2 linked regions of the Homo sapiens genome follow. The protein of the gene in region 2 purifies or fractionates together with the protein of the main gene of each other region. This does not show direct contact. Each region holds a gene or a part of one and is shown on either strand. Other genes may lie near its edges. The genes, in order: SLC31A1 and PYROXD2.

Region 1 (3,048 bases), on a different chromosome or scaffold from region 2:
AGGAGGGCAGGATTTAACAGACCAGCACAAGACAAATCAATTTAAAGAGGTAGTTTGAACCAGGAATAAGACTGCAGTGTAGACTACAACTGAACAGAATACAAATCCAATGTGGTTCTTCACTGAGAACAGGGGTTTTGGCCACTTGTAATGTAATTAAACCCCCACGAATAACAAAGATGATTATATGGAGGATGAGGATCTGCTTGGTATAAGCACAGTTGTTGGAGCCTGAGGAAAACCTGGCCATCAACAAACCACAGCCTGAGTCTTTCCAAAGAGAAAGCTGGGCTTTTGCCCTTCTGGCCCATGACTGGTAGATTTACACTGCAGATCAAAGGTCTCTCTCAACAATCAAACTACTTCCAAGAAACCATAGACCTTTAAAAATAAGGACTAGTGATTTCATACAGGCTAGTAAAAATACTTTGGCTATAGCCCTTCACACATGTGTGCTTGGGTACACATACACACAGGTGGAGCTCAATAAATGTGGAATGATTAGGTATTGATCAGCAGTATTTACTACGTGAGTTAAGTCCAGACACACCATCTACCAATCAGCAATTCAAATTTCCATGCCCAATACCAGGCAGCCAACCCACCAGGCAATATTTCCTTAGCTTAAAGCACAGATTCTCAAAAGTGTGGTCCCTTGTAACATCAGCAGGAACTCAGAAGTGCCACTTTGGGGGCTTTTGGGTTGAGGCCCAGCAATTAGTGTTTTAACAAGCCCTACAGGTGATTCTGATGCACGCTAAAGCTTGAAAATCACAGTTTTAGAGGCAGACATGCGAAAACATTATAATGGAAAAATTAATTCAAACTCTCTTGCTTCACTTCAGCTGGGACAAACCAAGGTATCAAGACAAAGTAAACTGTGAATGGTTTTATTTAAAAATATCTATTTCTATTTTCTCAAATTGATTGTCATTTTTTGATTGGCAAGTTCATGCTAATCAAAGTGTTAAGTGGGAATGCAAGTCGATGCATCAGCCATCCAAGAATACACACTCTGCAAGTTCTAAGCCTGTATTTAGTCTCAAACCACCGCTCTGCACACTACAAAGATTTTGGTATAACGTATCACATCTAGAGAAAGGCACAATGTATTTCCCACTCATTGAATCCAAAAGCTGGACCTTCTTTTCTTTTTTTTTGAGATGGAGTTTCACTCTTGTCACCCAGGCTGGAGTGCAATGGCGCCATCTTGGCTCACTGCAACCTCCGCCTCCTAGGTTCAAGTGATTCTCCTGCCTCAGCCTTCTGAGTAGCTGGGATTACAGGCGCCCACCACCATGCCCGGCTAATTTTTGTATTTTTAGTAGAGACGGGGTTTCCCCATGTTGGCCAGACTGGTCTCGAACTCCTGTCCTCAGGTGATCCAGCCTGCCTTGGCCCCCCAAAGTGCTGGGATTACAGGCATGGGCCACTGTGTCCGGCCCTGGACCTTATTTTCTAATGTTAAGTTTGAGTTCTGGGTTTAGTTGGGCAAGAATTTCCCTCAGCTGCCATCAATCCTGGCTGAAGTTAACCCCTTTCCATCACTGACCCAGGGGAAAAAACCACCAAATTTACTTACTATCTGTTAAAAATTCAAAAAGGAAGCAGATGATCAAGTCATTGAACAAAAAGCTACATGGATTAGACAAGAACATATAACTTGGCTCTAAGATGATGGAGAAGGAAAAGACATCTCATGGGTGGCTTCTCCTTAAGAGAAATGGGAATCTCAGCTTATTAGAAAAAACAATTTGGGAGGTTACTACTTTAGTTCAGAGACTGTAAACTAAACCTCTGTTGAGCAGGGGTGTGTGTGTGTGTGTGTGTGTGTGTGTGTGTACGTGCACAAAGAGGAGCAAGAAGGGATGATTGGAGCAGGAATCACGTCTTCAAGTCTTCAACAACTTCCCACTGCAATCGATAAGGCCACGCCATAGAGTTTGATGTCAATGGCAATGCTCTGTGATATCCACTACCACTGCCTTCTTCCAGCTGAAGAGGAAGTATCCTGTACCGGCCCCTGCTGCTACTGCAATGCAGAGGTACCCGTTGTAGGTCATGAAGATGAGCATGAGGAAGTAGCTTATGACCACCTGGATGATGTGCAGCACTGTTTGCAGGAGGTGAGGAAAGCTCAGCATCTGTTGCCTGGAGAGTAAACAGGGACACAACAATCAGGGACTCCTAGGAGTTCTGCAGATCAGGAGAAAGAGGGAAGAGTTCTTGCCATGAGCTCAGCTGGAACTGGACAGCCACTCTGGCAACTCATGGGTACTTGAATGTTCTTTGATTGGTCCATGGAAATGAAACAGCACAGGGCTGTCAGGCTTATAAACATTGGCCAGATATGGCTGTGGTTCCTCCAGTAGAAGGAACCCTTTTCCGGAGGAGGAGAAAAGGACGAGGAGTAATCCCGACTTACCTCCACCTTAGATCCTGAAAGGGAAGCCGTAAACCCTCTCACGCTCATCTGCCCGAATATTTTTAGGCTTCCCACCTTTGCAAAGTTTACATTCTACAAAAACAGAAACAGAGGCTGGGGGTGGTGGCTAATGCCTTTAATCCCAGCACTTTGGGAGGCCGAGGTGGGCTGATTGCTTGAGCTCAGGAGTTTCAGACCAGCCTGGGCAACATGGCGAAACCTTGTCTCTACAAAAAATAAAAAAAATTAGCTGGGTGTGGTGGCTCATGCCTGTAGTTCCAGCTACTTAGGAGGCTGAGGTGGGAGGATCACTTGAGTCTGGAAGGCAGAGATTGCAGTGAGCCAAGATAGTGCCACTGCACTTCAGCCTGGGCAATAGAGGGAGACCCTGTCTCCAGAAAAAAAAAAAAAAAAGAAAGAAAAAAAGAAAAAAAAATAGAATTGAGGGTTGGGTAGTATAGAAGAAATTACTTAATTAGGGATAAGGAGACCTGGCTACTCATCCCCTGTGCCACCTTAGGTAGGTCACAATCCTTCTGGGCCCCAGTAAGCTCATCAGTACAATAAATAACACTGCTTGTTTGAAAGCAGGATATCAGTCTATAGGATTTCTTAAGGTCCAA
Region 2 (3,824 bases):
ACGCCCGGCTAATTTTTGTATTTTTAGTAGAGACGGAGTTTCACCATGTTGGCCAGGCTGGTCAAGAACTTCTGACCTCAAGTGATCCGCCTGCCTCGGCCTCTCAAAGTGCTGGGATTACAGGCGTGAGCCGCCACGCTGGCCTGTCCTTCTGTCCTTTCCTATATTATTGGTAGAAGTTAGACCTCTTTGCCTGTATTCTTTTCCGGTCTGTAGGTCGTCTCCCATGCCGTCTCATCACCTGCAGTCACAGAAGCCTGCCTCCTCTCACCCCACAAGCTCCCATGTCAGAATCCACTTTCGAAAGCCTGGTTTCTGACACCCACCCTCCTTTCCCTGGAGGGCACAGGAGCAGTGATAGAAGCCTGTGCTACTGGAGGCCCTACCTGACTCTTCTTAGCCCTGGACTTTGAATTTTGGTCCATCTCTACCCATGGATATACCCATGGCATTTTAATAAGTGTTACATAAAGAAAAGTTCCATGTTAAAATACATTCGAGAAGTCTTATTAAAAATGAAGTTAAACAGCTTTCTCTAAGCAGGCCTTTAATATGACAGCATGGAAAGACAAAACCAGAAATCAAGCTCCTCACTTTCCACGATGGGAAATGGGCACTTGCCTCCAGCGTGTGTGGTCGCTGGCATGTAGGGCCACAGCTAGTGTCCTGCAGGCCCGGGGACCTGGCCTTGTGCAGAATCCCCTCAAGTGCCTCTGAGATGGGTAGGATTTGGACGAGAGGATGCAGGTGGTGGTCTCCAATCTGCTGCACAAAAGAACCACCAAAGAAGCACTTTTAAAAAAGCTAAGCTCCTCAGGCCGGGTGTGGTGGTTCATGCCTGTAATCCTAGCACCTTGGGAGGTGGAGGTGGGAGGATTGCTTGAGCTCAAGAGTTCCAGACCAGCCTGGGCAACATAGTGAGACTTTTGTCTCTACAAAAAAATTAAAAATAACATAGCCGGGCATGGTGGTGAATGCCTGTAATCCCAGCTACTCAGGTGGCTGAGGCAGGAGGATTGCTTGAACCCGGGAGGCAGAGGTTACAGTGAGCCAAGATCGCACCACTGCACTCTAGCCTGGGCAACAGAGTGAGACCCTGTCTCAAAAACAAATAAAATAAAATAACAAAATAAAAGGCTAAGCTCCTCAGGTGATTCTGATCATCAGCCAGGTTTGAAAACTGCTGGTGGAAGAGACATGTAGGCTGTGTGTCTGTGGTTCTCTAAGTTTTACCCAGCAATAGATTAACACAACAAAAGCAATGTACATGGGTTCTATTAACCTAGGTTCTTCTTATAAAAATGTCTCCACTGAGATATGATTTAATGCTACATCTCAGCTAATATCCAGGCTTGGTACAAAATGGCCATTCAAATAATCTTTCTATATCCACAGAACCAACTGTGGCAGGGCCCTTACGGAACTCAGTGGCTCATCTAGACAAGGCCACCCAGCAGGTTCCTAGAATGCAGTTCCAAGGGAAAAAAGTGCATTCTCCATCCGACATGTGTTCATCCTGTCACCAGACCTGCACACCATCATGGACACTTTGTTGCCTTGGGCAGCCAGGAGGGAGCCTTGGGATGCCACACTGAATAAATATTTAGAACTCTCCTGTCCTAAGTTCCTGATTCAGTTTATTTATCCTTAATTTTCTCTGATCTTCCCTCATCCTCCTTTTTGGCTTTCATGTGCTTTAATGTGGACAAACACCTGGAACTCTGCCTGAAAGCTGGAGGGGCATGAAGCACACGCCAGTGTAAGAACGTGCCAGTGCATTTCCTCTTGAACTCAGCAGGCACAGCCCCTCTGACAGTGGCCCCATACTGAACACACGCAGGTGAGCAGGCCTCCCAGTCCACTGGTCTTAATCAGCATCCTCCACCCGCTTCTCTTCGCAGTGCCTGAGATCAAGAGCTGCCACCAACTGGAGCCCTCCTAGGAACGTGGGGTGGCCTGGCGCAGTGTCCATGGCCTTTGAACAATTGTTCTAGGACAATCCAACCAGGCCCATCTCTAGGCTGCTGAGGGAGCAGGAGCTCAGTCACTGGTCGCCTTCCCTACCTGGGCATCCTTCTGGGAGAACTGGGCGATCTGCTTCTGGTTTTCTGCCATGTCTGTGCCCAGCAGAAGGCACCTGGGCACCTTGCTGCCTGCACCCTCTTCCAGCATGGGGGTGAAGGAGTAGGGGTTTCGAAGATGAAGCCTCAGCCCATGTTTCTGCAAAACACAAATAGCATGGGCCACATATTAATGGCTCTGTGGTCTCTGCCCATCATCTTTCTCCGATTGTGTTTGTGTGACCATTTAGGTACCTGTGTGTAGGTTCCCAAGTGTATGGTCCTGGTGTCTGTTTTTTAAATATAAGTTTATAAAAAGCCCTCTTGCCCAAGTACCCTATGGTAGACGATACTGTATCACATCGCAGTACACTATACCATTCTACACCATACCATACATACCACACATACCATGCCATACACCACGCCATGCCATGCCACATCATACCATACCACACTACATCACATCACACCACACACACCATGTCATACCACACCCTACCACACCATGTGATACCATACCATGCCATATCACACCACACTATGCCATGCCATGTCATACCACATCACAGCATGACACACTCATTCCATGCCAGGGACTGTACTAGGGTTTACAATGGTTACCTCACAATAACTTTGTAAGTACAGTCTTGCATCACTTAACGATGGGGATATGTTCTGAGAAATGCATTGCTAGACAATTTCATCACAGTTTGAGCATCACAGAGTGTACCTACACAAAACTAGATCTGATAGCCTACCACACATAGGCTGTGGGGTGTAGCCTGTTGCTGCAAACCTGCACAGAATGTTACTGCACTGAATACTGGAGGCAACTGTAATCCAATGGTATTTGGGTATCTAAACATGTCTAGGCTGGGCACAGTGGCTCGTGACTGTAATCCCAGCACTTTGGGAGTCCAAGGCGGGCAGATCAGCGAGGTCAGGAGTTCGAGACCAGCCTGGCCAATATGGTGAAACCCCGTCTCTAGTAAGAATACAAAAATTAGCCGGGCATGGTGGCACGCACCTGTAGTCCCAACTACTCGGAAGGCTGAGGCAGGAGAATTGCTCGAACCTGGAAGGCAGAGGTTGCAGTGAGGCAAGATTGCCGCCACTGCACTCCAGCCTGGGTGACAAAGCAAGACTCTGTCTCAAAAAAAAAAAAACAAAAAAAAACAAACATAGAAAAGGTACATTAAGAATATGGCATAAAAGGTAAGAAAAATGATACTGTATAGAGCCCTCATGATGAATGGAGCCTACAGGACTGGAAGTTGCTCTGGGCGAGTGAGTGGTGAGTGACTGAAGGCCCAGCACATTGCTGTACACTACTGCACACTTTATAAATATAGTACACGTAGGCTACACTACATTTATTAAAAAATTTTCTTCAGTAGGTTAGCTTACTGCAAACTTTTAAACTTTATAAACATTTTAATTTTTAAAACCTTTTTGATTCTCTTAAAAAGACACTTGGCTTAAAACACAAACATTGTACAGCTATATAAAATATTTTCTTTATATCCTCATTCTATAAGCTTTTTTCTGTTTTTAAAATTTTTTATTTTTATTTTTTACTTTATAACCTTTTTTCGCTAAAAAGTAAAATGCAAACACACACATCAGCCTAGGCCTACACGGGGTCAGGATCATCAATGTCACTGACTTCCACCTCTACATCCTGCCCCACTGCAGGGTCTTCAGGGACAGTAACACGTGGCACTGTCATCTCCTAGAGAGCAATGCCTTTTGCTGGATACC

The links.
Region 1: the proteins of PYROXD2 (region 2) and SLC31A1 purify together in Homo sapiens (co-immunoprecipitation; one large-scale study listed by IntAct). This does not show direct contact.

The regions. Positions count from the first base shown.
Region 1 is NC_000009.12:113,259,375-113,262,422, reverse strand, and holds part of SLC31A1 (high affinity copper uptake protein 1), read right to left. Parts: intron 2,152-3,048; coding exon 1,950-2,151; 3' UTR 1-1,949.
Region 2 is NC_000010.11:98,398,038-98,401,861, forward strand, and holds part of PYROXD2 (pyridine nucleotide-disulfide oxidoreductase domain-containing protein 2), read right to left. Parts: intron 2,221-3,824; coding exon 2,065-2,220; intron 1-2,064. UniProt on the Homo sapiens protein: Probable oxidoreductase that may play a role as regulator of mitochondrial function.